7 linked regions of the Homo sapiens genome follow. The protein of the gene in region 1 purifies or fractionates together with the protein of each later gene. This does not show direct contact. Each region holds a gene or a part of one and is shown in the gene's direction. Other genes may lie near its edges. The genes, in order: SYMPK, P3H1, VSIG1, USP24, WDR33, FIP1L1 and PAPOLA.

Evidence for each region.
Region 2: the proteins of SYMPK (region 1) and P3H1 purify together in Homo sapiens (co-immunoprecipitation; one large-scale study listed by IntAct). This does not show direct contact.
Region 3: the proteins of SYMPK (region 1) and VSIG1 purify together in Homo sapiens (co-immunoprecipitation; one large-scale study listed by IntAct). This does not show direct contact.
Region 4: the proteins of SYMPK (region 1) and USP24 fractionate together in Homo sapiens (co-fractionation; one large-scale study listed by BioGRID). This does not show direct contact.
Region 5: the proteins of SYMPK (region 1) and WDR33 purify together in Homo sapiens (affinity purification with mass spectrometry; 4 studies listed by BioGRID and IntAct, with this or other methods). This does not show direct contact.
Region 6: the proteins of SYMPK (region 1) and FIP1L1 purify together in Homo sapiens (affinity purification with mass spectrometry; 2 studies listed by BioGRID and IntAct, with this or other methods). This does not show direct contact.
Region 7: the proteins of SYMPK (region 1) and PAPOLA purify together in Homo sapiens (co-immunoprecipitation; one study listed by IntAct). This does not show direct contact.

What each region holds. Positions count from the first base shown.
Region 1 is NC_000019.10:45,845,513-45,850,152, reverse strand, and holds part of SYMPK (symplekin), read left to right. Parts: intron 1-1,276; coding exon 1,277-1,403; intron 1,404-2,151; coding exon 2,152-2,401; intron 2,402-4,640. UniProt on the Homo sapiens protein: Scaffold protein that functions as a component of a multimolecular complex involved in histone mRNA 3'-end processing. Specific component of the tight junction (TJ) plaque, but might not be an exclusively junctional component. May have a house-keeping rule.
Region 2 is NC_000001.11:42,759,872-42,764,511, reverse strand, and holds part of P3H1 (prolyl 3-hydroxylase 1 isoform 1 precursor), read left to right. Parts: intron 1-2,036; coding exon 2,037-2,189; intron 2,190-4,640. UniProt on the Homo sapiens protein: Basement membrane-associated chondroitin sulfate proteoglycan (CSPG). Has prolyl 3-hydroxylase activity catalyzing the post-translational formation of 3-hydroxyproline in -Xaa-Pro-Gly- sequences in collagens, especially types IV and V.
Region 3 is NC_000023.11:108,047,404-108,052,043, forward strand, and holds part of VSIG1 (V-set and immunoglobulin domain-containing protein 1 isoform 2 precursor), read left to right. Parts: intron 1-4,640.
Region 4 is NC_000001.11:55,069,112-55,072,364, reverse strand, and holds part of USP24 (ubiquitin carboxyl-terminal hydrolase 24), read left to right. Parts: coding exon 1-48; intron 49-440; coding exon 441-551; exon of another isoform or gene 552-806; intron 807-906; exon of another isoform or gene 907-967; intron 968-3,253. UniProt on the Homo sapiens protein: Ubiquitin-specific protease that regulates cell survival in various contexts through modulating the protein stability of some of its substrates including DDB2, MCL1 or TP53.
Region 5 is NC_000002.12:127,720,148-127,724,787, reverse strand, and holds part of WDR33 (pre-mRNA 3' end processing protein WDR33), read left to right. Parts: intron 1-344; coding exon 345-455; intron 456-1,440; coding exon 1,441-1,535; intron 1,536-1,743; coding exon 1,744-1,830; intron 1,831-2,057; coding exon 2,058-2,197; intron 2,198-2,799; coding exon 2,800-2,952; intron 2,953-4,434; coding exon 4,435-4,640. UniProt on the Homo sapiens protein: Essential for both cleavage and polyadenylation of pre-mRNA 3' ends.
Region 6 is NC_000004.12:53,387,188-53,391,827, forward strand, and holds part of FIP1L1 (pre-mRNA 3'-end-processing factor FIP1), read left to right. Parts: intron 1-2,621; coding exon 2,622-2,686; intron 2,687-3,333; coding exon 3,334-3,441; intron 3,442-3,821; coding exon 3,822-3,952; intron 3,953-4,242; coding exon 4,243-4,311; intron 4,312-4,640.
Region 7 is NC_000014.9:96,525,678-96,530,317, forward strand, and holds part of PAPOLA (poly(A) polymerase alpha), read left to right. Parts: intron 1-1,752; coding exon 1,753-1,862; intron 1,863-2,275; coding exon 2,276-2,329; intron 2,330-4,640. UniProt on the Homo sapiens protein: Polymerase that creates the 3'-poly(A) tail of mRNA's. Also required for the endoribonucleolytic cleavage reaction at some polyadenylation sites.

The sequences.
Region 1 (4,640 bases):
TCCCTCAGCCCCCCCGAGTATCTGGGATTACAGGTGCCTGCCACCACACCCAGCTAATTTTGTTTTCTGTTGTTGTTTTTTTTTGTTTTTGTTTTTGTTTTTGTTTTGAGATGGAGTTTCGCTCTTGTTGCCCAGGCTGGAGTGCAATGGTGCGATCTCGGCTAACTGCAACCTCCACCACACAGGTTCAAGTGATTCTCCTGCCTCAGCCTCCCAAGTAGCTGGAGTTACAGGTGCCCGCCACCATGCCCGGCCAATTTTGTATTTTTAGTAGAGATGGGGTTTCACCACGTTGGTCAAGCTGGTCTCAAACTCCTGACCTCAGGTGACCCACCTGCCTCAGCCTCCCAAAGTGCTGGGATTACAGGCGTGAGCCACTGCGCCTGGCCAAGGCTGGGATTTTAACTCATGTCTGCAATGCCAGAACCCAAATATCCTATCTCCCCATTTACTGGGAGAATTTGTGGTAAATTTTCTGAATTTGTAAAAAGTCCATTCAGCAAATACATACCATGTGACTGCTGTCGTACCAGGCATCCATGTTAGGCTGTAGTATAGCAGTGAGCAAAAACGTATTATTCCTGCCTTCATGTAGCTGACAGCTAAGTTTCATATTTTTTGACTGATTTAATTAATATTTCAGATTGTAATGTATGCTGTGAAAATTCTGTGCTGAGCTCCTATTTATTCATTGAACATTTGTTGGAGGCCCTTCATTTTTTTCTTCAATGAAAATGACCCTGCTGGGGTTATTGCCAAGCTAGGAAAGGGTCCCTACTTTTTGAGCCCTCAGACTGAGGCAAGCAAAACTAGTGATTACAGAAAACAAAGTGCTTTAAAGTAGCAATGGCTGGTGTTTACCGAATGCTTTTTGGTGTTTACTGAATGCTTTCTGCATGTCAGGCACTCTTCTAAGCACTTTACAAGTATTGTTGCAATTTTCCCAAAAAATTGCATAAACAATTGGATAGATACTATTATTCTAAATGAGGTGAAGTCGCTTGTCCAAATTCACACAGTTGTCTGCCCCTACTGTCCCTTATGTGAACAGCAGGGCCCTGAGAGAGCAAAGGAGTTGGTGTTACAGGACCAGTCTAGATAGAGGGTTCAGGGGCGGCTCAGTCTGGAGGCACCAAGCACTGTTCCCAGCTTCTGGATGTGCCATTCCGGTCCCCTGAGACAGGTCCCTGATTTCCCTTCCCTCCTGGACCTCAGGCTCCTCCTACTTGCTCTAAGACCACACCTTGACCTCGCCCCTTTTTTCTCCATCCCTCAGCAAGCGAGACATTGAGTTGCTGCTGAAACTCATTGCAAACCTCAACATGCTCTTGAGGGACGAGAATGTGAACGTGGTGAAGAAGGCTATCCTCACCATGACCCAGCTCTACAAGGTGGCCCTGCAGGTGAGAGCGCCCTCCCCACCCAGGGCCATCCTGCCTGATATGTCTCGTTGACAAACTAATATGTTGGGGTTCAAAACCAGCATCCGAGCATACTCTTTATGGGCAAGATGTGCCACTGGTCTGTGGGAACAGATAACATGGAGAGCTAACGTTGTCTCCTAGGTCAGGAAGTTGCACTTAACCTTCATTCCTTCCATTGACCATCCGTTTATTCACTCAACAGACATTCCCTGAGTATGTCCTCTGTGCTTAGCCCTGGGCTAGGTGATGCTGGGGACACAGCAGTGACCAAGACAGCTTACTGCCTTCACAGTGCTCATAACCCAAGGAGGGAGGTAGACCTTAATTAATGAATCACATAAATATTGATTATGGAGTGTGATAGGAAAAGAACACTCTATGGTGTGATGTACATTAGCATTAATAAAACGAATGAATCCATTTAATCACCACCACCTTGTGAAGTCAGCACTGTTAGTCCTTTACCCTGAAGATGTGTGCCTTCATCACACTGAGTGGTCACTCTCTGCATCCCCATGAGGGCAGGGCGAGGCCTGGCCACTACTCAGTCCTGTCTCCAGCATCACCGAGCACTGGGCTGGGGCAGAGTTGGAACTCAGTAACTGTTAACCAAATGAATGTATTCATCATTCATGGTTCTCTGGGTATTGGCAGAGGGTGTTGGTGATTGATGCGTTGTCTTCACCTCTTTGTGTGTCTCTTCCATTCCTTCCTGGCCTGCTGGCAGTGGATGGTAAAGTCACGGGTCATTAGCGAGCTACAGGAGGCCTGCTGGGACATGGTATCTGCCATGGCGGGGGACATCATCCTGCTATTGGACTCTGACAATGACGGCATCCGCACCCACGCCATCAAGTTTGTGGAGGGCCTCATTGTCACCCTGTCACCCCGCATGGCTGACTCAGAGATACCCCGACGCCAGGAGCATGATATCAGCCTGGACCGCATCCCTCGTGACCACCCCTACATCCAGTACAGTGAGTACTGCCTTCAGCTGCCACCCCTGACAGCCCTGCACCAGTTTCCTCTCCTTCACGCCCCTCCCTCTCTCCCCCTTGTCTTTTTTGGTTTTAAATTTCTGGAACAGTGTGTGCAGTAGTTAAGATCCCTGGTGCTAGGTTCAGATCCCAGCTGCACTGCTTACTCATCATGAACTTGGGCAAGTTACCTGTCTCTGTACTTCATTTTCTTTTTTGTAAATTGGAGACGATAACATAGTACCACTCTCACAGGTTTGTAGTGAAGTTCCATGAGTGTGAGCCAGTCGATGCTAGCTAGTTTTATGGTTTTCTTTTTTTTTTTTTTGAGATGGAGTCTTCCTCTGTCGCCCAGGCTGGAGTGCAATGGCACAATCTCAGCTCACTGCAACCTCCGCCTTCCGGGTTCAAGAGATTCTTCTGCCTCAGCCTCCAAAGTAGCTGGGGCTACAGGCTCCCGCCACCATACCTGGCCAATTTTTTTAAAAATTATTTTTAGTAGAAGCAGGGTTTCACCATATTGGCCAAGCTGGTATCGAACTCCTGACCTTGTGATCCGCCCGCCTTGGCCTCCCAAAGTGCTGGGATTACGGGCTTGAGCCACCGCGCCGGGCAGTTTTACAGTTTTCTTAACTGCAAATTATAAAAGTAGGACATAGGCCAGGTGTGGTGGCTCATGCTTATAGTCCCAGCATTTTGAGAGGCCAAGGCAGGCAGATCACTTGGGGTCAGGAGTTCGAGACCACCCTGGCCAACATGGTGAAACCCCTTATCTACTGAAAATACAAAAATTAGCCGGGCATGGTGGCGGGCACCTGTAATCCCAGCTACTTGGGAGGCTGAGGCACGAGAATCGCTTGAACCCAGGAGGCAGAGGTTGCAGTGAGCTGAGACTGTGCCACTGCACTCCAGCCTGGGTGACAGAATGAGACTGTCTCAAAAAAAAAAAAAGTACTATATATACACTTGGTGTCAAGCAATATGGGTGAATCAAAAGGAATAATGTCCCCTCCCTCAGTCCTGCTTTCCAGAGATAAACACTGTTAAGAGTATTATGTTTCCTTTCAGATCTTTCCTGTGCACATGTAGGTATTTGTATGTGTATATGCATAGTGTCTGCATTTGTTTGCTTTTCTGTTTGCAAAAATGAGGCCATGCTTTGTGTTTTCATCTCAGAGACATTATAGTAGCTTGTGTCTGACACACAGCCTATTTTCCCTTGTCTCTGAGCCTGATTCCTCATTGGTAAATTGGGGATCGTTATTATGGCATCTAATTTAGGATGTAGGTATGAGCATTTGGTGTATTAATATGGCTGGAATAGTAAACATTCCATAAATATTAACTATTCTTATGTATTGTTTGACAGCCTTTTTGACTTAATAGTATCAGTGACGTCCTTCCCTGTGAGAATCATATAGTTGCTATACCATATTCCATAGTATAGTTACATTACATTCTATTAAGCAATGCTCTGTTGATGGTCATTTAGATTTTTAATTCACTTTTATTTTTTGAGACGGAGTCTCGCTCTTTCACCCAGGCTGGAGTGCAGTAGCGCTATCTCGGCTCACTGCATGCTCCGCCTCCCGTGTTCACGCCATTCTCCTGCCTCAGCCTCCCGAGTAGCTGGGACCACAGGTGCCCGCCACCACGCCCGGCTAATTTTTTGTATTTTTAGTAGAGACAGGGTTTCACTGTGTTAGCCAGGATGGTCTTGATCTCCTGACCTCGTGATCTGCCCACCTCGGCCTCCCAAAGTGCTGGGATTACAGGCGTGAGCCACCGCGCCCGGCCTAATTCACTATTTTAAATAATGTGGCGTTCAAGTCAAAACTACAATGAAATGTCTCACCCCAGTTAAAGTGACTTTTATCAAAAAGACAACAAATGCTGGCGAGGATGTGGAGAAAGGGAAACACTTGTACACTGTTGGTGAGAATGTCACTTACTACAGCCTAAAAATTGTTTGGAGTTTTGAGGTTCCTCAAAAAATTAAAAATTGAGCTACCATATGATTCAGCAATCCCACTGCTGGATATGTAACCGAAATAAAGGAAATCACTGTATCAAAAAGATAACCCGCACTTCCATATTCATTGCAGCACTAGTCAGAATAGCCAAGACTTCGGAGCAAACTAAGTATTCATCAACAGAGTAATAGATAAAGAAAATGTGGTACTCATACACAATTGAATACTATTCAGCCATAAAAAAGAAGGAGATCCTGTCATTTGCA
Region 2 (4,640 bases), on another chromosome or scaffold:
ACTGCCCAGCCAGTCAGTGAGTCATTAAGCCCAGATGTGATGCTGGCCTGTCTCTTTTCTTTCTTTCTTTTTTTTTTTTTTTTTTTTTGAGATGGAGTCTCGCTGTTGCCAGGCTGGAGTGCAGTGGCGACCTTGGCTTACTGCAACCTCTGACTTCTGGTTTTCTGGTTCAAGTGACTCCCCTACCTCAGCCTCCCGAGTAGCTGGGATTACAGGCACGTGCCATCACATCCGGCTAATTTTTGTATTTTTAGTAGAGATGGGGTTTCTCCATATTGGCCAGGATGGTCTGGATCTCCTGACCTTGTGATCCACCTGCCTCGGCCTCCCAAAGTGCGGGATTACAGGCGTGAGCCACCGCACCCAGCCCTCTTTTCTTTTGAGACGGAGTTTCGCTCTTGTTGCCCAAGCTAGAGTGCAATGGTGCGATCTCGGCTCACTGCAACCTCCGCCTCCTGGGTTCAAGCGATTCTCCTGCCTCAGCCTCCTGAGTAGCTGGGATTACAGGCACATGCCACCACGCCCAGCTATTGTTGGTCTCAAACTCCTGACCTCATGATCCGCTGGTCTCAAACTCCTGACCTCATGATCCGCCCGCCTCAGCCTCCCAAAGTGCTGGGATTATAGGCGTGAACCCCCGTGCCTGGCCACGGCTGGTCTCTTTGATACCAGTGTCCACATAGTTAATTACTAGATCATCAGTGATTTATTTGGTTGGATTCTATATATGAAACCTGTGTTACTTTGACATGCTGGAGTCCATTGCTGTGGGCATTGTGGTCTGTAGCCTATTTCTCCCCCCTTGGATTTCTTTTTTTTTTTTTTTTTTTTTTTTTTTTGAGACAAGAGTCTCGCTCTGTCACCCAGGCTGGAGTATGGTGCTGTGATCTCGGCTCGCTGTAACCTCCGCCTCCCGGGTTCAAGCGATTCTCCTGCTTCAGCCTCCCAAGAAGCTGGGATTACGGGTGTGCGCCACAACGCCCAGCTAATTTTTGTATTTTTAGTAGAGACGGGGTTTCACCATGTTGGCCAGGCTGGTCTCAAACTCCTGACCTCAAGAGATCTGCCCCCTTCGGCCTCCCAAAGTGCTGGGATTACAGGCATGAGCTACCGCCCCCGACCACCCCCTCAGATTTCTTAGAGCTATTTGTTTGAACCTCATGAGCCCTGAGCTTTGAGTCAGAAAATACTATGTCTGGACTTAGTAAAGGACCTTAGAATTTTTAGCCATCCACCTTTTCCCTAAATGTCTCAAAAATTCTTCATTTTATTTTATGCAAAAAAAAATTTTTTTCTAGGAAAATTCTTAGGCATAGTCTGTTAGCTGCTCTTTTTTCTCTACCCCTAAATCCTTGAAGCCACAGAATTTCTTCAGCTCAGGCATTACATTTGATTCATGAAATATATATATGTATTTTTTTTTTTTTGAGTCAGGGTCCTGCTGTGTCACCCAAGCTGGAGTGCTGTGGCACCATCTTGGCTCACTGCAACCTCTGCTTCCCAGGCCCAAGCGTCCTCCCACCTCAGCCTGCAGAGTAGCTGGGACTACAGGCATATAGTACCATGTAATTTTTGTATTTTTCGTAAAGACAGGGTTTCACCATGTTGCCCAGACTGGTCTTGAACTCCTGAGCTCAAGTGATCCACCTGCCTCGGCCTCTAAAAATGCTGGGATTACAGACCTGAGCCACCGCACCCAGCATGAAAACATATTATGTGGGCAGTCAGTCTTTCACAGCACTCCCCATACAATATGACCTTTGTTTTAAAATGGAACATTGCTACTTCCTGTAATCTGGGGAACCCCTAAATCTGACTTGGGAAAGAGCTACAAATCTGCCCAGGGCACTATGCTCCTAATCTGTCGTGGGTAGTTCCTGCAATAGGTGTGCTTCCTGGGGCTGGCAGGGGCTGGGCACGCTGAGTGGAGGGCTCAGGGAGGCAGGGATTTCCTGTTTATGTGGACTGCTCATGTGGACACAAACGTTCAGAGATTGGATGTGAGCATTATCCACCTTCTCATGCTTCATTCTTAGATCAACAAGTTGGAGAAAGCTGTTGCTGCAGCACACACCTTCTTCGTGGGCAATCCTGAGCACATGGAAATGCAGCAGAACCTAGACTATTACCAAACCATGTCTGGAGTGAAGGAGGCCGACTTCAAGGATCTTGAGACTCAACCCCATATGGTGAAAAAAACTTTATCCCCTTCTTTCTTTCTTTCTTTTTAAATTTATTTTAGAGACAGAGTCTTGCTCTGTCACCCAGGCTGGAGTGCAGTGGCTTGATCATAGCTCACTGTAACCTCAAATTCCCGGACTCAAGAGACCCTCTAGTCTCGGCCTCCTGAGTAGTTGGGACTACAGGCATGCATTCTTTTGTTTTTTTTTAAATGACATTACTAAGGTTGTTTTCTAATTACATTACAGAAGTAATGAATGTTCATTGTATAACATTGTAGAAATGTAGGTAAGTATAAAATAAAAAGTAATCATTTGTAATACCGCCACCTTAAGAAAACCAGTTTATATTTTGCCCTATTTTTTAAGTCTTCCGTATATAATTTTTTCATCTAATTTGGTGTTATATCATGTATGCATTTTTTATCATCTTTTTTATTTTTTTTGAGGCAGGGTCTCACTTTGTTGTCCAGGCTGCAGTGCAATGGTGTGATCATAGCTCACTGCAGCCTTGACCTCCTGGGCTCAAGTGATCCTCCCGCCTCAGCCCCACAAATAGCTGGGACTAGAGGCATGCACCACCATACCCAGCTATTGTTTTTATTTTTTGTAGAGACGGGGTCTCACTGTGTTGCCCAGGCTGATTTCAAACTCCTGGCCTCAAGCGATCCTACTGCCTTGGGCTCCCAAAGTGCTGGGATTGCAGGTGTGAGCCACCATGGCCAGCCCCATCATCATTTTTTAACTAACATTATTATCATGAGTCTTTTCTCATGTCTTCAGTTTTATTTGAAAACATAATTGTTTATGGCTGCATGATAGTCCATCTTATGCAGAGACTATATTAATTCACTAGTCACATTTTTTTGGTCATGTATGTTTTTGATTTTCACTACAATAAATGTTACAGTATCCTTCAATGTTCTCATTCTATTTGTTTAGCAGGAAAAGTTCCAAAGGAGGGACTGTCTGTGATGATATAGCATTTTATAGAGAGTTTATGGTTCCTTACATTTTAATTATAAAATAGGAATGTTAGAAACAATATAAGAATGACTTATAGGCCAGGCGCAGTGGCTAACACCTGTAATCCCAGCACTTTGGGAGGCCGAGGTGGGTGGATCACTTAAGGTCAGGAGTTTGAGACCAGCCTGGCCAATATGGTGAAACCCCATCTCTACTAAAAATACAAAAATTAGCCAGGCATGGTGGCATGCACCCGTAATCCCAGCTACTCGACATGGAGGCAGGAGAATAGCTTGAACCTGGAAGGTGGAGGTTGCAGTGAGCCAAGATTGTGCCACTGCACTCCAGCCTGGGTGACAGAGCAACAGTCAAAAAAAAAAAAAAAAAAAGAATGACTTTTAAAAGTAAGTTGTGGCCAGGTGCAGTGGGTCACACCTGTCATCCCAGCACTTTGGAAGGCCAAGGCGGGCGGATCACAAGGTCAGGAGATTGAGACCGTCCTGCCTAACATGGTGAATCCCTGTCTCTACTAAAAATACAAAAATTAGCTGAGCGTGGTGGTGTGTGCCTGTATTCCCAGCTACTCAGGAGCCTGAGGCAGAAGAATCGCTTGAACCCAGGAGGCGGAGGTTGCAGTGAGCCGAGATTGTGCCACTGCACTCCAGCCTGGGTGACAGAGCGAGACTCCATCACACACACAAAAAAAAGTAAGTTGTGTTGGCCGGGCGTGGTGGCTCATGCCTGTAATCCCAGAATTTTGGGAGGCCGAGGTGAGTGGATCACTTGAGGCCAGAAGTTCAAGACCAGCCTGGCCAACATGGTGAAATCCTGTCTCTACTAAAAATACAAAAATTAACCAGGTGTGGTGGTGTATGTCTGTAATCCCAGCTTCTCAGGAGGCTGAGGCGCTAGAATCACTTGAACCCAGGAGGTGGAGGTTACAGTGAGCTGAGATCATGCCACTGCCCTCCAGCCTGGGCTGTCTGTCTCAAAAAAAAACTCTGTCTCAAAACAAAACAAAACAAAAAGTAAGTTGTGTTTATTTGAAAACTGTTAGCCCTACAAAAAAGTGCAAGAACCTAGGCCAGGCACGGTGGCTCATGCCTGTAATCCCAGCACTTCGGGAGGCCGAGGCGGGCAGATCACCTGAGGTCAGCAGTTCAAGACCAGCCAGACCAACATGACAAAACCCCATCTCTACTAAAAACACAAAATTAGCCAGGCGTGGTGGCGCATACCTGTAATCCCAGCTACTCTGGAGGCTGAGGCAGGAGAATTGCTTGAACCCTGGAGGCGGATGTTGCAGTGAGCCAAGATCGCACTATTGCACTCTAGCCTGGGCAACAAGAGTGAAACTCCGACTCAAAAAAAAAAAAAAAAAAAAGTGCAAGAATCTGTCACTAATGGGGGGGGAAGAAAAGTACAAGAAAATCATAATGAACTCCTAGATATCTTTCATCTAGATTAAGAGTTAAATGTTTTTTGGCCAGGCAC
Region 3 (4,640 bases), on another chromosome or scaffold:
CATTTTAGGTATTTGAAATATGTATTAGTCACCTCTTAGAAAGATATGTTAATGTGGGTTTCATTTTCTGGAGGTATATGCTATGCATTTTAAAGGAGTAATATATTTGAACTTTGAGTTTGCACTCAAATCCAAAAAAGTGAGTGATCATTTGATTATATTATTTCCTAAGTCAAAATGAATCTATTATATATGAAGTTGCTGGAAATTAAATCACTTCAAATCTATCAGATTAAATATGAATATTTGGGGGATATTTTGCTGTGGTACATTAGGAGGATAATAATCCTTCTATAAGCAAAATGTTTGCCACCTTGTAGGCATTAAATGAATGAACAATCACCACCAAAATACAAGACATTCTCTCTCTCTCTCTCTCTCTCTCTCTATATATATATATATATACATATATATATACATATATATACACATATATATATACATATATATATACACATATATATATACACATATATATATATACACACATATATATATATACACATATATATATACACATATATATATATACACATATATATATATATATACACACACATATATATATATATATATATATATATATATATATATATATACACATATATATATTCTTTTGAGACGAAGTTAAGTCTTGTTGCCCAGGCTGGAGTGCAATGGCACGATCTCGGCCCACCGCAACTTCCGCCTTCCGGGTTCAAGTGATTCTACTGCCTCAGCCTCCTGAGTAGCTGGGATTACAGGCATGCACCACCACGCCCGGCTAATTTTGTATTTTTGGTAGAGACAGGGTTTCTCCATGTTGGTCAGGCTGGTCTTGAACTCCCAACCTCAGGCGACCCGCCCACCTCAGCCTCCCAAAGTGTTGGGATTACAGGCGTGAGCCACTGCGCCCAGCCTAAAAATATTTTTAAATGTTGATTAAGTGTGTACATCTTGGATTATTTTTCTTTAATAATAAGCACTTTTTTAATTATTATTATACTTTAAGTTTTAGGATACATGTGCACAACGTGCAGGTAAGCACTGGTTTTTAAAAGAGATTACACATATTTCAACCACATATGCATTTTTGTTTTGTTTTTAAATTTGGTCAAGTCAGAGAGGGACATTGCGTTCTTGGGTTTTGTTTAAATCAGATACTAATCTTTACTTTGCTATTTATTCACAGTCCTATTGATGTAGAGATTTTTCTGACTTATTCAATTTTTAAATAATTTCTCAACTTAGAATGACTTAATCCAAAGGAAGGGAACTTTTTTCCCTGACACTCAGAGAATCACCTCCACTTTAGGACTAAGTTTGCACTGCCCATTGTCTACATGTGGCTATTGAAATTTAAATCACTTCAGATTAATGAAAATTATAAAGTCAGTTCCTCAGTTTCACTAGCCACATTTCAAGTGTTTGATAATTCTATTTGGGCTACTGAACTGGATGGCGCAGAGATAGAACATTTCCATCATCACAGGAAGTTCTGTTGGACAGCACTGTAAGGGTGAGCTCAGAGGTTTTAAGTAATGTGCACTAATTGAATGATGTGACATTTTAAAAAGGCTCATCTGGAAATATATAACTTTTAGCTCTGAAGCATATCATCACTATATCATGGTTGGACAATGTCTGAAAAACATCTTTTCTTCAGAATTTAATTGGTTATGGTGCTAAGAATTGGGAATCTGGGCAATAAAATGGCCTGGAGGTTTTGCTTTGCCAACTGTTACTTATTTACATGACAATGTGTAGTACCTCAAAAAATATTGTCTCACTTTAAAATTTGAAATTACCATCCTAATTCCAAGGTGATATTATTAAACTTTTGCAGATTTCTAATTAGTTACACATTTATATATCTTCTATATTTAAAATGTTAGAAATGTTTGAATCAGATTTATATTTTCCAAATCCTTGATTTTCATTCACCTCTATTCTCATCTGTGCTATAAATGGCTTCCTGCTGCACTGAGGGATGGCAGAGATTGTGTCTGTCATGTTCATTCTTGTTTCCCCAGTGTTCAGCACTGTTTGTGGCACAAAATGGGTGCTCAATTGATATTTGTTGCTAGGCTCCACAGCCTCTTCCATGGCTTGACTTGTGTGAGTACTGTGTGTACTCTGCCATCAAACACTTTTTCCAAGAGTGGTCTTCAAAGGGGGTTTGTGGGGTTTTGTTTATTGTTTTGCCTTATCTGTTCATAAATTCTCACCCTTAACCAATCTCGTAACAGATACTGGGTCCCAAACTAGAGAACAAAAATTATGGCCAAATAATATCTCTAAAATCTCTGTTTTTAGGGAATAAGTCTGGGAACTTTAAGGGCTACCAAAACCCCAGTTTTATCCTTTTTATTTTGGACACTTTAAAGACATTTGGAAGTCATCATTTAAGCACGGCCAGAGATGTGGCTAACTTCCAGGAGAAATGAAATGGGCTCTTTGAGGGTGGGAGGGAACCATCTTTCTCCAGTGAAGTTTTTGTTGGAAAGATTAGCTGCTTTCTGAAAGCCAATTTCCTTTTTGGAGGAGGCATTATGGAAACCAGGAAAGCATGGGGAGGAGAATATTGGGAAGAGGGAAACTGTATGGAGTTAAAAAGTGCTGCATTTTTGTTTGCATTCAGGCACTTTTCTTAATTTATCAGTGCATTGGTTGCCATGTAAACAGCCAGCTTCTGGCAGGAAAGCAGCTGGACCAGGTGACCTGGCTGTGACAGAGAACACAGATATTGAATCCATGAAACCAAGAGTAATCAGTACAACGATTTTTTTTCTTTTACTTTTTAAAAGTGTTTGTCAATCCTTTAAGTTCTTTTTGTCTGACTGCTGTCATTAAGTAAGAAAAATATGAAATAAATAAGTCTTTGGGTATGCAAAATTGGGAAGATGGACAGGAATTAGTCCCTCTATGCAATTTCCTCTGAATCTTTCATAATTTCTGTATCCTCATCCCTTCACCCTCAACCCTCCAACACCCTCTGTTACCCTGCAGGCAACTAGGACAGCATAGAGAGCGTCTCTTGAACTTGACTTTCTCTTCCAGTGCTTGCCTGCCAATCCCGTGACCCATCCTGGAGAACTTTTATAGTCTTCGACAATGCAATGCATAGCAACCAGTTAATAAGATAAGACAGTGACTGTATAGTGCTCCCCAAAGTGCCATCACCTAAAATAGCCCTTTGGAAAGTGCTCATATAGAACTGAGAATTTTAGTGTAGTGGCAGGCTGGATTTGGGTAGGGTGCCCTTCGGTGGGCCTCCAAATCCTATGGGGAGCTTAATTACTTCATCTTTCTGTAAGGCCAACAGTTCTCAAAATTTGTGGTCTCAGGACAATTTTACACTCTTAAAAACTGAGGGAGATTTCTGGTCTGGACATGTAGTACAGACCTGTTTTTCATTGTTCCTCCCTGCTAAGCACAAGTATAAACCCTGGAAATAATGCAAGAGACAACCAGGGTAGAACTCTGGAAGGTTGTAAGGAGAAGGCAAACTGGTTTGAGACCCAGGGAAAAACAAAGAGCAAGGGTATCCTATGTTTCCCACCCAGCAGAAGAAAGAAACCTAGTCCTGGCCATTCCTGATACCCAACTGAACAACAGAGGGCAGCCCAGGTAAGCTTACTCCTCCCTCAGAGTCCCTCTGACAACATCAGGTAGGCCCAACACCACAGGTAAGGGGGGATCTTCAGAAACCCCACCAACAACAGTGGACAAAAGAAGCATTTGCCTTCTCCCCAGGCCTGAGATGTCCCACTTTCACCTAGAGATATCGAGGTGGGAGGGTAGAACAGACACGAGGCATAAAGTGATGGCAAGCGGCCCAGTCTGGGAAGGCTCTGTCTCAGTGGGTGTATGACTGTCCTCTCCTACCCATAGAGACACCAACAGTGCAGGGCGCCAGTAGAAGTGTCCCACCATACCTACCCCAACTGAGAGGCACCTGGAAGCCTGACCTAGGGAAACCTTTCTGCTCCTTCAGGCGATATGATCTGGGACAAATGTCAGCCTCAGTGATATCCGATAAACCAAACAGAGCAAAACAATACTGAAAATTAAACTGCTGTTAGAACAACAGACCACAAAAGTAAGCCAACACCTGCTTGCATGTGAAGCATAAATAATGTGACTGACTGCAAAAATAAAAAATGTAAATATGAGTTTCCTAACATAGTAGACAAAATGTTCAATCAAAAATCATCTGTCATACCAAGAATCAAGTAAATCACAACTTGACTGAGAAAAGGCAACTACTGCCAACATTAAGATGAGTTCGATGTTGGAATTATCTGACAAGGATTTCAAAGTAGCCATCATAAAAATGCCTCAACAATCAATTAACATTATCTTAAAACAAATAAAGAAAAAAAAGGAAACTTGCAGAAAAGAAAAAGAAGTTATAAAAATATAAGAAAGAAGGAAATTCTGTCATTTGCTACAGCATGAATGAACCTGGGGGACATTATGCTAAGTGAAGCAAGCCAGACACAGAAAGACAAACACCACATAATCTCACTTATATGTGAGATCTAAAAGAGTTGAACTCAGAATTAGAGTAGAATGGTTACCAGGGACTGTGGCTTGGAGGGAGTGGGAAATGGGGAGAAGTTGACCAAAGGGTACAAAGTTCCAGTTAGACAAGAGGA
Region 4 (3,253 bases), on another chromosome or scaffold:
AATGAAACATCAACTGGAAAAACCTTTCAGCGAACCATTTCAGCTCAGGTGAGAGTTGTCTCTTGTTTTTGCGTGGTCTAAATCACTTATGGAGGATTTTCAGTGTGTTTCTCAGAAACTGCAACCTCTGAGAAGAGAGGTATGAGTTGAAGATGAGAACAAGCAGAAGAAACAATTGGATTTCTATGAAAAGAAAACAGATTGGTGTACACTTACACAAATTTGTGCAGATTATTTGTCTAGAAGGAAAGTCATACAGGTTGGGCAGTCTGGTCACAAAAAGGGACAGGGGTTGAGGGGGTTCTGGTGACTGTGATGAAGGCCTCACTCTCAGGCCTCCGGTCCCACTGAAGGTCAGATGAAAGGTAGTCTTCCCTGGCGGTTGCTGCTGCCACTGAATGGGCCCTAACTTTGTCGTCTTGTGTTTGAATCTTCTGCAGGACACGTTAGCGTATGCCACAGCTTTGTTGAATGAAAAAGAGCAATCAGGAAGCAGTAATGGGTCGGAGAGTAGTCCTGCCAATGAGAACGGAGACAGGCATCTACAGCAGGTATAACGGTCAGCATGTCCTTGTGTGCAAAGGGCAGCCTTGCTCTTAAGCTTTCCAAAAAGAATTTCCACAGCTGAGGGAAAACAAGATGCTTCCTCTGGAATGTGAGTCCAAAGAGTTACCAGCGCTGCCCTCTAGTGATCTCAGCTCAGCATATGCACTAACCGTGTGTTTACAGGGCTGAGTAGTGCTGCAGTGTGAAGTGAATGGAAGGCCTCGAGGTGTTTGTGGCTGGCCACCCTGATCAGCCTGCAGGTAGTCCCGATGAAGCCAGGGCACAGGGGGATTCGTTCCAGCTTGTTCACTTTATTCTGCCTTGCCAGGTTACTGAAAGTCCCTCGTTTGCTCTCACCAGCCTTCCTGGAAATGTGGACTCTTGAAAGAAAAGCTCCCGTGCTCTTGAAGTATACCTGCTTGCCAGGGGAGTCCAAGAAAATTTTGACATGTATTTTTAAAAAAAGAAAAAAAAACAGCTTTAATACCAATCATTATAGTAGAAAAAGAAAATAAATATGTATTGAACACCCACTGTGTGCAAACACTGAACTAAGTGTCAGTTAATCATTACGTCTTTCCAATAGTCTGTAACTTTCCTTAACAGCAGTCTCCTCTGTGGTCCCTTCACAGTACTTGGTACAGAATAGGCCCCATTAAATGAATGTTACTGATGTAGTAGGTGTCATTTTTTTTTAAGTGTTATCTTTCGGATCCTCATAAGCACTATGTGAGGCAGCTGTCACCCTGATTTTACAGAAAGGTAACTGCAGCCCAGCACAGTGATGTGACTTAGCCCAAGGTCACTCCACACATTACCTCATCACCTACTTCATTTGCAGAGAAAATAAAAGCTGTCACAGGAGAGCTCCTGCGGCCACTAATTCCCAAGCATCTGCACTGTTCTTGTCTCCTCTCCTGTGACAGTGGGAAGTTTGCCTCTGTCCACCCAAAGCCCCTAGCGCTCATCCCCGCCCACCTTGGCAGAGCTTTGCGTTCTAATGTGTATGTAACTCTTCAATATCCAGAACGCTCCACCCTGCCAGACCCTTCCCAGCGACGTCTCAGCACACTGGTTTCTCTTCTGCCCTGTCAAAGCCTCTCTTCTGCCCTGTCAAAGCCTCTCTTCTCCCTGTTGCCCCTGCCTTCTTTTCTCTTCTTTGCAGCCAAACTTCGACTAATTCTCTAAACTTAACTTTCCCCATTTTCTTATCTCTCACTCGCTCTTCAGCCTCTTCCCTGCTAACTCCCTCTTCTCTCCAACTCAGCAGTTGGGGTGACAGGTGGCCTGCAGCTTTCAGGCCTCATCTTAGCCGACTGCTCGGCAGCATCTAGCGCTCCTGGCGCTCTTCCCGTTTGAAACACTATTCCAGGGCTTTCCTGACACTTCTCTCTCGTAGTTTTCCTCAAACCCTTCTGGCTGTTCCTTCTCTGTCTCCTTCCTAGTACTGCCTCTTCTGGACCACCAGTAAAGGTTTGTGGAGTCTCTAACCTGTATCCTCCTGCCCTCACTCCATATTCTCTCCGCACCCACCTTGGATTTCTGAACATGAACATCCAGCTCTCTTGTTCTTGACGTTCTCCACTTGGCATACCTTAAAGACCTCAGACTCGATGTGCCCAGCCCCTCCTCCCTGCGCCCACCAAAGCTGGCCCTCCGTCAGTGTTCCTTATCTCACACACAGCACCCCCATGTCATCCCGGACAGCTCCCTTTGAAAGGGTGCTCGTCCCTCTCCTCCACCTGTCATCAGCCCCTCTCTGCCTACATCTGTAAGGATCCCCTCACCTCCACCCCTGCTTCTCTCTGGTTCATGCACTAAAACCTTTCAAAGGCTTTGTATGAGGAGAAAAGCCAGAATCCTCAACACAGTCCTGCTTGATCTAGCACCTGCGCACCTCCCCACCCCCATTTTCTGATTTTTTTTTTTTTTTTTTTTTTTTTTTTGAGATGGAGTGTTGCTCTGTCACCCAGGCTGGAGTGCAGTGGTGCAATCTCACCTCACTGCTACCTCCTTCTCCCAGGTTCCAGCGATTCTCCTTGCCTCAGCCTCCCAAGTAGCTGGGATTACAGGCATAAGCGACTGTGCCTGGCCCATTTTCTGAATTTTATTTATCAAATGTACTCTCTTCCTTCCACCTCAGGGCCCCCCTACTCACCCCCAACTCTCACTCAGCTTAGGTTGTCACTTTAGAGAGACTGTCCTTGCTCCTCCCCACCCCAGCTCCAACTAGATCAGCCCCATGGCACACGGTGAGTATTCAGAACGATTCGCCAAGTGTGTAAGCCAAAGGCCACACAGATGGTAACAGAGGTAGCCTTCAGACCCAGGAGTGACCCAGAGCCCATATTTGGCAGGTGCAGGGCAGGGAGGCTCACACAGTGCCCAACGTGAAGCGGGCACAATGGCCATCAATGCCTCTCCCAGCTTTATCACTGCTCTGCGTTCTCACATGGGTGCAGAGTAGCATTGTGACTTTAGACAAGTCGCTGGGTTGTTTCACTGACTAAATGAGATCATAGAAATGTACATGTTTTACATAATCATGAATTGTCAAATATTAGATGTAATAGTTATCACATTTTATTACCCTTTGATAAACATTGCATTAAGTTGCCAGATGAAGACATGTTTAAATTGCAGAACACAAGTCAGCATAGAAAACCTTTTCTCTAACCGTATGAACTTTAACTTCCTTTTCTTTTCT
Region 5 (4,640 bases), on another chromosome or scaffold:
TCCTATATCAGAGACTGCTTGCAGTTTTCAGTTCTGTAAATCCAGCTTGGAATAGAAAATGTACCTCTGTTTGTGGATATGGAAGTCATTAAGGAGGAATAAAATAGATTTTCTAGTTTCTAAATGCTTGCAGCCTTTTCCCCTGTGAAGTGCTCTTTGGATGAAAGGGTAACTGTCCTTTGGCAATGACAAGCCAATACCCCGAGACATGTGGAATTCACCAGAGTCCAAGTCCAGGCTTTGGTAGCTTCATTTTAAGAGTAACAGAAAATGTCTTTTTTGAGGGGGAGGGAGAAGCTGGGTAACTTTTGTGAACAAATCTTCTCTCTTTGGTGCTGTTGCAGGGTAGAGAAGGAAGTGGGTGGGATGGAGATGGCTCACGAAGGGATGATCTGGAGTCTGGCTTGGCATCCTCTTGGGCATATTCTCTGCTCAGGCTCAAATGACCATACTAGGTAAGCTTTATATTGAAATAGCAAAGCTTTATATGGAGCAACAGGAAATAAATACTGTATGTGTTTATTTTTATTGGTTGATTGATATAGTAATTTATATTCCAACTTATTCTTGGGAATATTTTTGTAGTGGTTTACAAATACTTATATTGCAATAAAGAGATTGGGTATTGAATATGGTTTTGGCTATTCAAATTTTGTTTTGCCTTCTGACTTAAAACAGAAGTTTTCCACTTTTATTTATTTATTTATTTATTTATTTGAGACAGGGTCTCTGTCCAGGCTGGCGTGCAATGGTGCGGTCTCAGCTCACTATAGCCTCAACCTTCCTGGGCTCAGGTGATCCTCCTACCTCAGCCTCCTGAGTAGCTGAGACTATAGGAGCACACCACCACACCTGGCTAATTTTTGCATTTTTTGTAGAGATGGGGTTTCACCATGTTGCCCAGGCTGATGTCAAACTCCTGGGCTTAGGCAATCCTCCTGCCTCAGCCTCCCAAGGTGCTGGGATTACAGGCATGAGCCACCTTGCCCGGCCCCACATTTTATTTTTATTTTTATTATTATTTTAAGAGACAGAGTCTCACTCTGTCACCGAGACTAGAGTTCTGTGGTGAGATCACAGCTCACTGTAGCCTCAAACTCCTGGGCTCAAGCCATCTTCCCGCCTTATCCTCGTGAGTAGCTGAGACTACAGGTGTGTGCCACCACACCCAGCTAACTTTTTAATTTTTATTTTGTAGAGACAGGGTTTCGCTATGTTGCCCAGGCTGGTCTTGGACTCCTGGACTTAATCCTCCTGCCACAGCCTCCCAAAGTGCTGGGATTACAGATGTGAGCCAAAGTGTATGACCTCACATTTTAAATTTGTAGAAGAAACAAATTGTAAAAATGTGTTGTGTTTACCAAGGGTCTGCCTAGTACTGTTTAGTGCCCAAAAAAATAGTGAAGCCATGCTTCTTTTCTCCTTTAATTATTTTTACAGCAAATTCTGGACTCGAAACCGACCAGGTGATAAAATGCGAGATCGATATAATCTAAACCTTTTACCTGGAATGTCTGAAGATGGAGTAGAATATGGTGAGACTCTTGCACATCTGTCCTTCTTTGAAATCTGGTATTCTATTACAGAAGTGTTAGATGTTGGGAAGATTATACAAAATGAATTTTAATTTTATAGTAGATTTATTTATAAATCATCAGTGACATTCATTTTTATAAAGCATTAATTTTATCAGTCGCTACTTTTGTAAATTCTCTATTGACAATGGTGTATTACTATTTATAGATGACCTCGAACCTAATAGCCTGGCAGTAATTCCAGGAATGGGAATACCAGAACAACTAAAATTAGCTATGGAACAAGAACAGATGGGTAAGAGAAGTTACACAGACACATTTAATTTTTACAAATTTTTTCTTGACCCGTTTATGTTCCTGATAAATATATTGAAATACCAAAATGATTTATGTTGAGAAATGTTGATAAAAATTATATAAATGACATAATACTTAAAATCTATTCTTCCAATAATGTGTTCATTGATCAAGTGGCCAATTTCTTTTATTTAAGAGGCAAACCACTTTTCTTTACGGTTACAGGGAAAGATGAATCAAATGAAATTGAAATGACAATTCCAGGTTTAGATTGGGGAATGGAGGAAGTGATGCAAAAGGATCAGAAAAAAGTACCTCAGAAGAAAGTTCCTTATGCAAAACCCATTCCTGCTCAGTTCCAGCAGGTAAGTAAAAGTGACTCCACCTCATCCACGCAGAGAGGTTTTGGTTGGTTAGTTTGAGGTTTCTCTTGGATTATCTCACTGTTGAAGGTGTTTCTGTACTGGAGCATTTTTCCCATGTTCACGTACTCTTAGACATGGTTCTCATCTACTGCTTTGCAGTTGTATTGAGTTTGTTATCAGTCTTCTCTGTTCTGTCCTCACCTGCTTATTATCATCCATGCTATGAGAGGAAATAGAAGAAAGAGGCATGGAGCAGAGGGAGTATGGGAGTATGTTGCTTCTCTTCTCCATTGTTTATCTATCTTGTGCTTTAATTGTCCCCTCAACACAAAGTGCATGTACCCTGTGAAGAGGCTGGCAAGCTTTGCATTCTTAATAACATGCAGTGTCTTGCAGCTTTTATCACCATAGTAATTTCTACCTAGTAATATGTCAGTAAGAATTAGCATGAGTCATGTACTTGAGTCATGGAGAAAAGGTAAAAAGAAATAAAATCGGTTCAGAGGTTAGATTGAGCAGATGACATTGTAGAGTGGTTTTCTCATTCTATCATTGTAATTTTCATACTTAGCGTACATTTTAATATTCTCTTCTTTCCCAAGGCTTGGATGCAAAATAAAGTTCCAATTCCTGCTCCAAATGAGGTGCTGAATGACAGAAAAGAAGACATTAAATTGGAAGAGAAGAAAAAAACACAAGCAGAAATTGAGCAAGAAATGGCTACATTACAATATACTAACCCACAACTTCTGGAGGTGTGTGAAGCTCTGTAGGGGGGAATTCAAGATGATCTAAGAGGGTAGTGGTGACATTTTTATTGATAGGCTCTTAAGGAAAAGGGAAGGGGCTCTCCCATGGTCTGACAAACACCGCCATTTCCTGTTGCTATGCTAGAAGACTAGTTTCCAAAAGAATCCTGTTTCTTAAAATTTTTTAAAATGTGTTATTTATGTATTTTGTTTTATTTATTTTATTTTAGAGACAGAGTCATGCCCTGTCACCCAGGCTGGAATGCAGTGGTGCGATCACGGCTTGCTACAACCTCTGCCTCCCAGGCTCAAGTGATCTTCCCACATTAAGCCTCTTGAGTGGCAGAGACCACAGGCATGCACCATCACGTCTGACTAATTTTTTTTTAAGTGACTTCCTTGAGTCATATCTTGGACTTTTAAAACCCAATTAGGGTCAGGCGTGGTGGCTTACACCTGTAATCCCAGCACTTTGGGAGGCCGAGGCAGACAGATCACCTGAGATCAGGAGTTTGAGACCAGCATGGTCAACATGGTGAAACCCCACCTCTACTGAAAATACAAAAATTAGCTGGGCATGGTGGTGCATGCCTGTGGTCCCAGTGACATGGGCGGCTGAGGCAGGAAAATGGCTTGAACTCCAGAGGCAGAAGTTTCAGTGAGCCGAGATCGTACCACTGCACTCCAGCCTGTGCCACAAAGTGAGACTCTGTCTCAAAAACAACAACAACAACATAAAAAAACTGAATTAGTGGGGCAGTGAGTAGATCTAAGTTAAATATACATTTTTAATAGAAAAGATAAAGCCAACATAGTTTTAATTTGAATTCACCTGTTTATGAAAGAGTTTTTCCTTTTTGTCTGCTCATATAGCAGGTAGCTTGTTCTTATTTTTCTTATCTATGTTAGCTACCAAGAATGATGAATTAGTGGTGAATTATTGGGCTTTCCCTGATCAAGATGGACAAAAATAATCCTGACTAGGCCAGGCACAGTGGCTCACGCCTGTAATCCCAGCACTTTGGGAGGCGAGGCGGGAGGATCAGCTGAACCCAGGAGTTTGAGATCAGCCTGGGCAATATAGCAAGACCCTGTCTCTACAAATAATAATTAGCTGGGTGTGGTGGCATGTGCCTGTAGTCCCAGCTACTCCGGAGGCCGAGGTGGGAGGATCACTTGAGCCCAGGAGGGTGAGGCTGTAGTGAACCACGATCGTACCACTGCATTCCAGCTTGGGGGACAGAAAAAAAAAATAAGGAAAAAAAAATCCTTACTACTGTGTCCCAGGACTTAAAAAGAATGAGAAAGAACCTAAAACTCCTTACAGTGCTTGAGTGTTGCATGGACTCTAATTACCACTGGAGCGTGAAGAGTTTGAGCAGTTTTTATGTTTGAGAGTCCCCTAACAGAATACATGATAGCAATATTGTCATCTTCAAGGGCTCTGGCCTGTTTATTCAACATGCTTTTTTCTTTCTTTCTTTCCAGCAACTTAAAATTGAAAGACTTGCACAGAAACAAGTTGAGCAAATTCAGCCTCCTCCCTCATCTGGCACCCCTCTCCTCGGACCCCAGCCTTTTCCAGGACAAGGTCCAATGTCTCAGATTCCTCAAGGTTTTCAACAGCCCCATCCATCTCAGCAGATGCCAATGAACATGGCTCAAATGGGGCCTCCAGGTCCACAGGGACAGTT
Region 6 (4,640 bases), on another chromosome or scaffold:
GCATGTGGTATACACCTGTAGTCCCATGGACTTGGGAGGCTGAGGTAGGAGGATTGCTTGAGCCTTGGAGTTTCAGGCCAGCCTGGGCAATATAGTAAGATCCTGTCTCAAAGAATAAATAGAAACAAATAACATGGGTAACTGGTTGGTTGTGGATGGAGGAGGAGATAAAGGGCTCAGTGACTTAAAGATTTCTAGAGCAGTTAATTGGGTACAGGTGGGTGCTACTGCTCCCACCTCCCACAAAACAGATTCATTTGACATGTTTATTTTGGAGTTCCTATAGAAAGTCCAAGTATAGGATCTAGCATTTAGAGTGGTCTGAGACTTCATAGGGATCTATTGGACATTATATCAAATTTGCCTCTGCAATTTTTCATACCACTAAGCTTCTCTACACAGGCTTCTCTACAAAGGCTTGTGGCTTAAAAAAGAAAAATGATGTTTTAAAAGGCAGAATGGGGAATAGAAAGTAGCTAGGTGGAAAGCGAAGAAGCTCATTTATTGAACACTTGTGGCTAAGCCTTTTATAAAAATACTGTTTTATTCTATACGGTCCTGTAAGAGAACAGTTTAGAGAAAATCCTTGATTTTTGTACATTTGTAGAAAAATCATGTACATCATATGTAGATACCGCTAAGTCACTTTTTCTGAATTTGGATTGTTAAAATGTAAACATCGTGAAGGCAGGAACCGTAATTGTCCAGCTCCTCATACTTTTTCCTCAGCCTAGAACCATACTTGACATGGTTTGGTGCTCAGTAAGCATTACATGAATTAATCAGCCTATGAAATGATTATTTCAAGTTGGTGACGATAGTACTGCTTGACAGTAGTAATATTTGGTCCACTTTGTAATTTTTGCATTTCTAGCTGTGGAGCTACAGTTATTTGATACAATTAAACATTTTATTGAATTTACATTTTTCTTTTTTAAGTAGAAAAGAAAAGTGACAGTGCAAATGTAACTAAACCTAAGTCTTAAATGTAGTACATCAGAGACAAAAGATGGAAGTAATTATTATTAGACCCAAAGCAGTGAATCTGAAGTCCAGATGGCTGAAGTTCTGAGAGAAAAGAACCAAATATATAACATGAATATAATGTGAGAAATATATCATTATAAACATCTGTGACTTGAGGTCTTACTGATATCTTTTTTTTTTTTTGAGATAGAGTCTCGCTCTTTTGCCCAGGCTGGAGTGCAGTGGCGCGATCTCACTGCAAGCTCCGCCTCCTGGGTTCACGCCATTCTCATGCCTCAGCCTCCTGAGTAGCTGGGATTACAGGCGCCCACCCCCATGCCTGGCTAGTTTTTTCTATTTTTTAGTGGAGACGGGGTTTCATGGTGTTAGCCAGGATGGTCTTGATCTCCTGACCTCGTGATCCACCCGCCTCGGCCTCCCAAAGTGCTGGGATTACAGGCGTGAGCCGCCGTGCCCGGCCGTCTTACTGATATGTTTTTGTTCAGTGGGAGTTGGTCCTTCTTTGCCCATTCCCGTTTTCTTCTAACTTCCCTAGTAACAGAAAAGTCTCTTTTAATTAGTATATTTGATAATACTACTCATATATAAGAATCCATTATATAAAGAAGTAAAGAACTGTCTGTAACCCCGTATTACAGAAAATGTATACAAGGCTCATTTATACAAGTAAAAATGCAATGAATTATTCAAATAATTGTATACAAGTCTTAGGTGTTTTGGCCAAGATTACACAACTAGCAATTGACAAAACATTTGAATGTGGGTTGGTCCAACTTCAGATATTTTTTTCTTTATCACTGTGTATTATATTACATCTAAAAAGGTGCAGCTTAATATTTTTTCAAATATATACATTCATGTAACTACAGCCAGATCAAGATATGAAACATAATTGGCATCCTAGAAGTTTCTCTCATTTTGCCTCTTGGTCATTAACCACCCACCACCGGCAAACACTGTTCTGCTTTCATGCTAGACTTATTTTTGAATTTCTTGTCAATAAATTTCTGTTATGGACTGAGTACTCCATGAATAGTTGAAAAAGGATTTATTAACAATATCAAATGCAAGAAGAACTGAAAGGCCACTAGATTTGACAACAAGTTGGAGGAATTTTACTTATGCTTAAGAGTGCTGTATATTTAATAACTGGGAGGCAAGGAAATGAAGACAAGGGGTGTAAACTATTTTTCCCTTCTTAGCCTTATTTCTTGTGAAGTTTGTTACAGTAGAATGTTGAGTTATTGGCAAAAAGGTTTTTGAAATGGAAACAAGTCAGGCTTTTTTTTTTTACTGTTTTTGCCTTTTATTGAGCAAGTGACTTTAAAAATCAGTTTAAAATGTTTTTTAAAATATGTGTTAGCTGGGCACGGTGGCTCACTCTTGTAATCTCAGCATTTTGGGAAGCCAAGGTGGGAGGATTGCTTGAGCTCTGGAGTTCGAGACCAGCCTGGACAACATGGTATGAGATCTCATCTATACAAAATTTAAAAAATAAAGATAGAAATAAAATGTGTGTCACACTATCCATTTACTATGTGATTGTATAATTTGTTTGTACAAATGGAATATATTACTGTTTTGTTTAAGCTTTTCAGGATAATTTCTGTTTTTTTTTGTTTGTTTGTTTTTAGGAGTTATGGTACAGCACCTGTAAATCTTAACATCAAGACAGGGGGAAGAGTTTATGGAACTACAGGTAAAATTTGTATTTTCTGTTGCATCAATAGGGAAATAAGGCACATATCTTAAATAGGTCTTAATAGCTTTTTTTTTTAGTCGGGGACAGAGTCTGGCTCTGTCACTCAGGCTGGAGTACAGTGGCGCAATCTTAGTTCACTGCAACCTCCGTCTCCTGGGCTCAAACCATCCTCCCACTTCACCTTCTCAAGTAGCTGGGACTGCGGGCGTGCACCACCATGCTTGGCCAATTTTTGTATTTTTATGTAGAGACCAGGTCTCACCATGTTGTTCAGGCTGCTCTTGAACTTTCGAGCTTAAGTGATCTACCTGCCTTGGCCTCCCAGAGTGTTGGGATTCCATGTGTGAGCCACTGCGCCCGGCCAAGGTGATAATAGCTCTTTTTAAAGAGTAATTTTTGACCGTACATCACAGAGACTGGTAAAGTTTTTCTGGCAAGAGTCCAGTAGCACGTATTTTAGGCTCTGCTTTGTTTGGAACCCTTGCCAGGTTTTTTGCCAGGAATAGTAAAAAGATGTTTGTTTTCTGTTTGTGTGTGTATATGTGCCAGGAATAGTAAAAAGGTGTTTATATTTTCTGTTTGTCTATGGTATCGCCTGGCTTCTTGCAAGTATAGCTCCTTCATTTTGTAATTTTATAAAACAGGGACAAAAGTCAAAGGAGTAGACCTTGATGCACCTGGAAGCATTAATGGAGTTCCACTCTTAGAGGTAGATTTGGATTCTTTTGAAGATAAACCATGGCGTAAACCTGGTAAGATTATTGTGGATTATATTAATTTCAATATTTTCAGTGTGAAGTCATCAGAAAATTTTTTTGAACATCAATTTAGAATTTTATTTTTTCATTATAATTTTAATTGTCTTAAGCAAATGATGAGTAATAATGACTTGGGATTATTAAATCTTACTGGTGGCCTTGTATTACTTAAAATGTAGACTTATTGTTTATTATAATGGCGTTTGTAAAGGGAATAATTTGATCAAAAATGATATAGTCTTTTTGCCACCATAAATGATAGAGTGATAACTGATAGAACTCTAAATTTATATTTTTATAGTTTAGTATATTTTTGATGCTGCATAAAAATAGAGCTGAAATATTTGTACACTAAAGTTGTGTTTTATCTTTAGGTGCTGATCTTTCTGATTATTTTAATTATGGGTTTAATGAAGATACCTGGAAAGCTTACTGTGAAAAACAAAAGAGGATACGAATGGGACTTGAAGTTATACCAGTAACCTCTACTACAAATAAAATTACGGTAATTAATAAATACTCCGGAATACCCTTGGCTTGTCTACCGTCCCACTTTTACTCCCCAAATAAATCGCTTCCCTATAAAAGTGGTTAAATGCTATATGATAGTTTAAAAATTCCATTTTGTTTACCATGTTTGTTTTTCCCTTCCCTCCCTTTTAGAGTTTCGTATTTAATGATTATCTGATGTTCTTACTTTCAAATCACAGACTAGCCACAGCTAGTTTGTCTTTATATGGCCTATTAATTAAATATTATGTGGTATCTTAATGGGGAATATGTTATTTAACTTAGGCCGAAGACTGTACTATGGAAGTTACACCAGGTGCAGAGATCCAAGATGGCAGATTCAATCTTTTTAAGGTGAATTTTAGTAAATTATCCTTGGTTGCTCTCATTTTTTGTTCTTGAGTCTGCTCCCATGCCACTACTCAAGGGACAAGATTAAAGTGGAAATAGCTACCTTTTTTCCAAACCTTCAGCTTCCTGGTGACTTACAAATTTGCTGATTGTTGTTTTATCTCCACTTTTGCAAGCATGTGAATTTATAGCCTATTATACTAACAAATGCCGAGTAAAACTATTGTTTGCTATATGTTGTGATTTCATTTTGAGTCGTAATACATGTTTGTAGGATAGAAAAGTTAGTGGCAACAGATTATGCTCTCATTGTAGATAATACTCTAATCTTT
Region 7 (4,640 bases), on another chromosome or scaffold:
GGAGGTCAAGGCTGCAGTGAGCTGTGATTGCATTGCTACACTTCAGCCTGGGTGACAGAACAAGACCCCGTCTCAAGAAAAAGTAAATAAATAAATTAAAAACTCAGAGTTTCAGTAGAGGTAGCCACATTTTATCTGTTCAGTAGCCACATATGGCTAGTCGTTACTGCATTGGAAAGTACAGATACAGAGTAGTTTTTCTGTTGGAGAGCTCTTTTGTACAGTGCTGCTATCTACATATATATCATTTTCCCTCACCAGAAGAATATCACTCTGGAAATAGAACAAAAATGAATTCTAGCTTTTAAGAAAACTCATGGATGCCCCCCGCTAATACCTTTATAGACAAATTATAAAATATAGCTAAGCAAAAGCAAACCCCAAAAATGTGTATTCATAGCCAATGATAATCAGTTAATAGTTTATACTTGTAGTTATTTCCTCTATGCAAATAAATACACAATAAAAATGTTACCTCGGCAAAGAACATTTATTGAGCTTCTTTTCTTTCACTGAGTACTGAGATCTTCATTATCTTATTTAGTTCTTCCAGTACTGTTATTCTCACATAACAAACAGGAGCCTGAGACTAAAAGAGGCAATAAAGCTTGAACAGTTTTTCTCAACCTTCTAGTGGCAGAGTAGGTACAACTCAGGCATCCCGAGGCTGTACTGTCTTTGGGTCTTGCTCTGTTGCACAGGCTGGATGCAGTGGCACAGTCTTGGCTTACTGCACCTTCCACCTCCTGGGCTCAATTGATTTTCAGGCCTCAGCCACCTGAGTAGCTGGGACTACAGGCACACGCCACCATGCCTGGCTAATTTTTTAATTTTATTTTGGTAGAGACAGGGTTTTCCCGTGTTGTCCAGCTGGTCTCGAACTCCTGGGCTCAAGCCATCCACTTGCCTCGGCCTCCCAGAGTGCTGGGATTACAGGCATGAGCCACCACGCCCAGCTGAGGCTGTATTCTTTAACCATGAACTGTATCTGCCGAGATAGTGTTGTCTGTTTTCTAGTATCCTTTCCTCTCTCCATCTCCCATCACTCTGTCCCATTAGTACATTACTTTTGATATATCCTGTGTGCTGTACACCGTTCTTCCTGTTCTAATAAATAGCTTTCAGAGTCATACCTCAGCATCTTGTCTTTTAGGAAAATGACTGTTGACCTGATTCCACATTAATCTCTCCCTTTTATGACCCCAATTGATTTTAATTCTCCTTTTTAAAATTCTGCCTATGTACTTAGTGCTGGCCTCTTATCAAGCACTGAATTAATGACAAATATTTTACCATTGTCTACTTCTTTGGATTCTTCTGCTTGAAGTTTATTTTGTAGGTCCCATTTAGGGGCCTGGTAGAGAACCTATAAGCACCAAATACGTAGTACATAGAGGAAAACTATTTTTGTTTTACCAATGAACATGGCTATGACTAATGACATCAAGATGTTGGGTGTATGTTTGAATAATTCCCTCTCCACCATGAAAGTACTTGCTGAGCCATCTTTCTTTGGGCTCCCAGTTTACTTGGGCCACTATAAATAGAGGATGCTGCAGGATCAAAATATACCACATCAATTAAAATCATGTTTGTCCTCCATTGACTGGTAATTTTAAGTAAGGGGTGGAACATTTTTAGAAGCTCACCAGTATGTTAAACAGATTCTCAACATCAAATACTACCATGATAGGATGCAAAATAATTTTCTTGTAATATTAATTAGTGGTTGATGGGCTTAATTTTTTTTAGGTGCTGATATTGATGCGTTGTGTGTTGCACCAAGACATGTTGATCGAAGTGACTTTTTCACCTCATTCTATGATAAGTTGAAATTACAGGAAGAAGTAAAAGATTTAAGAGTGCGTAAATGTTCGGGGTGAAATGGGATGAGTTATGAACATTCATTTAGTCAGTTGAGTGAATTTTATGATATAGCCATCATTTATTGAGTTCTTGCAATTTGCCAAACCTTTCTAAACACTTGGCATATGTGTTTGTGTTTTATTCTTTACAGCAAGCCTAAAATTATAAACTCATTTACAGATTAGGAAATTGAGGCAAACAAAATAAATATGAAATAATCTGGCCACAATCATACATCTGATGAGTGGGTGAAGTAAAATATTTGAACCTTGATTTCTGATCTGTCTGATCGAACAGCCCAGTCTTAAAGCTAGCTATTTTTGTGTCAGGTGTTTTGCTAAAGTACTAAAACTAGTAGAGGCTTAAAATGTAGTTTCAGAGACCCTGAACTTGTTTACTTTCCTTATAGGCTGTTGAAGAGGCATTCGTACCAGTTATTAAACTCTGTTTTGATGGGATAGAGGTAAGGTATAGTTCAAATTGACAGTTCTTGCTATGTGCTGTCACTAATTTTGATTGATATAGGTTAAAAACTTGGTTTAAAGTTTATAATTAGTGAGTTGGTTGTGATATTAATAACAATTAAGGCTTTTAAATGGAAGTGACTGCCTATTCTTGTAGAATATACCATTTTAAATCTTTTTAAAAATACCAAGTGAAATTTGGAGCTAAAACAGAAGTAATGAAACCTTAAGATTGAAATGCTATTACAAAAAAGTTTTTTTGGTAGCTTTTCCATATGCCAGTTTTGTGTGCTTTTAGTCTCATTAAGGCAGTAGCATAATGTGTTTTTGCAAGTAATGCTTTGCTTTGACTTCATTTAAAAATTGGGAGAAAAGTGTGAGTGCTGAAATATCTTCCGATAGGGGAGGATTTATGGACTCAAATTCTTGAGATGATGTTCATTTCTCCTTGCTGCTTTCGGTGTGTGTAATTAAAGTGATGAGAATAAAGTTGACAGTGAAGCAACTTTAGTAATTCATTACTTTTGCTGTACAGAATGGTACTGGAAAGTCACAGATAATAAAGTGAAGATTGTAACATTTTGGAAACTGTAAGAGAAATAATTTATTGAAGCTGGGCACAGTGATGTGCACCTATCAGGAAGCTGCTACAGGAGGATCTCTTGAGCCCAGGAGCTTAAATCTAGCCTGGCAATGTAGCGAGACTTAATCTCTTTAAAAAATAAAAAAGATAATTCACTGTTGTACTATTTTGCAAAAAAATGGCTGCATCTAAGGTTGCTGCATAAGACGCTCAACTCTGTATTTTATGAAAAGTCAAGTGACTGACCTTAATAAGTAGACATAAAATGTTAAATTTGGTAAAGGATTATCAAGTTCATGTAGTTTTGATTTACTGTCAGTGTTTTAAGTAAACGTAAAAATAATCTGTAATATAAAGTATAAGTTGAGGCCTCATTTTCCTAAAAAGAATATTACTGACAAAGAGGACTTTTTTTTGGAAGGAGACCTGACCTAACTTTGTAAACTTTACAGGATCAAGATGGAAAGTTAGATGGCTACTTAAAACATTTAATGTGTTAATTTTCTATTATACATGCTATATTAAAAAATAATATTTTAGGAACATAATATTTTAGGAAATTTAGTAATCATTTTCACATTTCAATATTTTTTGAAGTAATTCCATCCTTTAAAAAATGTGTCAGTATTATTACTGAGTTGCTTTTTCAGTTACCTAGTTTTATGAGCCTATAATCTTTATTTCTGTCCAAATTGGGGGAGACTTTGAAATCTGTTCTTTTTCATTGAACAGTTTATCCTAGACCACAAGTACTTATTTGTGTAACAGTACAATTTTTTTTCTGTAGGTATGTTTAAATGATATTTTAAAATGTGCTCCTAAAATACTGCTTTTTAAAAAGTGATCTAGTAGCCAGGCACGGTGGCTCATGCCTGTAATCCCAGCACTTTGGGAGGCCAAGGTAGGTGGATCACGAGGTCAGGAGATCAAGACCGTCCTGGCCAACACGTTGAAACCCTGTCTGTACTAAAAATAGAAAAAATTAGCCAGGCATGGTGGCGTGTGCCTGTAGTCCCAGCTACTTAGGAGACTGAGGCAGGAGAATCACTTGAACCCGGGAAGTGGAGGTTGCAGTGATCCAAGATCCTGCCACTGCACTCCAGCCTGGGCGACAGAGCAAGACTCTGTCTAAAACAAAAAAACAAACAAACAAAAAAAAAGTGATCTTATAAAAGGCTTGTTTACAGCGACATCCACATTTTTGGAACCATGAAATCATACCCTCAGGGATAACTACCAAAGCTGTGCTGTTTCTTTGCACTCTCACCTTTCCTTTAGAAAAGAAACAATTTTGTCAGCGGAATTCTATGTCTTCAAAATTAGCCTTAACTGTGGTTGTTTTAGGCTGTACTTTCCCCAGTGTTTTTGTTTTACTTAAAACTCAGTTGGAAAAACATACTGTAGTATTACAGACATAAAAGTTCTCAGATATAATGGAATCTCTTTATTGAGAATTATTTTTGGCTAAATGTAAGGATGTTTGCCTTATATTTGAGTACTATTAAGTTCTCATGTATAATGAGATCTCCCCTTATTGAGAGGTATTTTTGGCTGAATATAAGGCTATTTGCCTAAATTTGGGTACTTTTTAGTATGTAATCAATTTATAATTCATATAGATGAAGAGCTAAACAGTTAACTTTAATTCAGCATATGTATTTACTAGACTTACTATATCCAGTAGATGCATTTAACAAACTTAATACATCAAACTTGATAATTGTGAT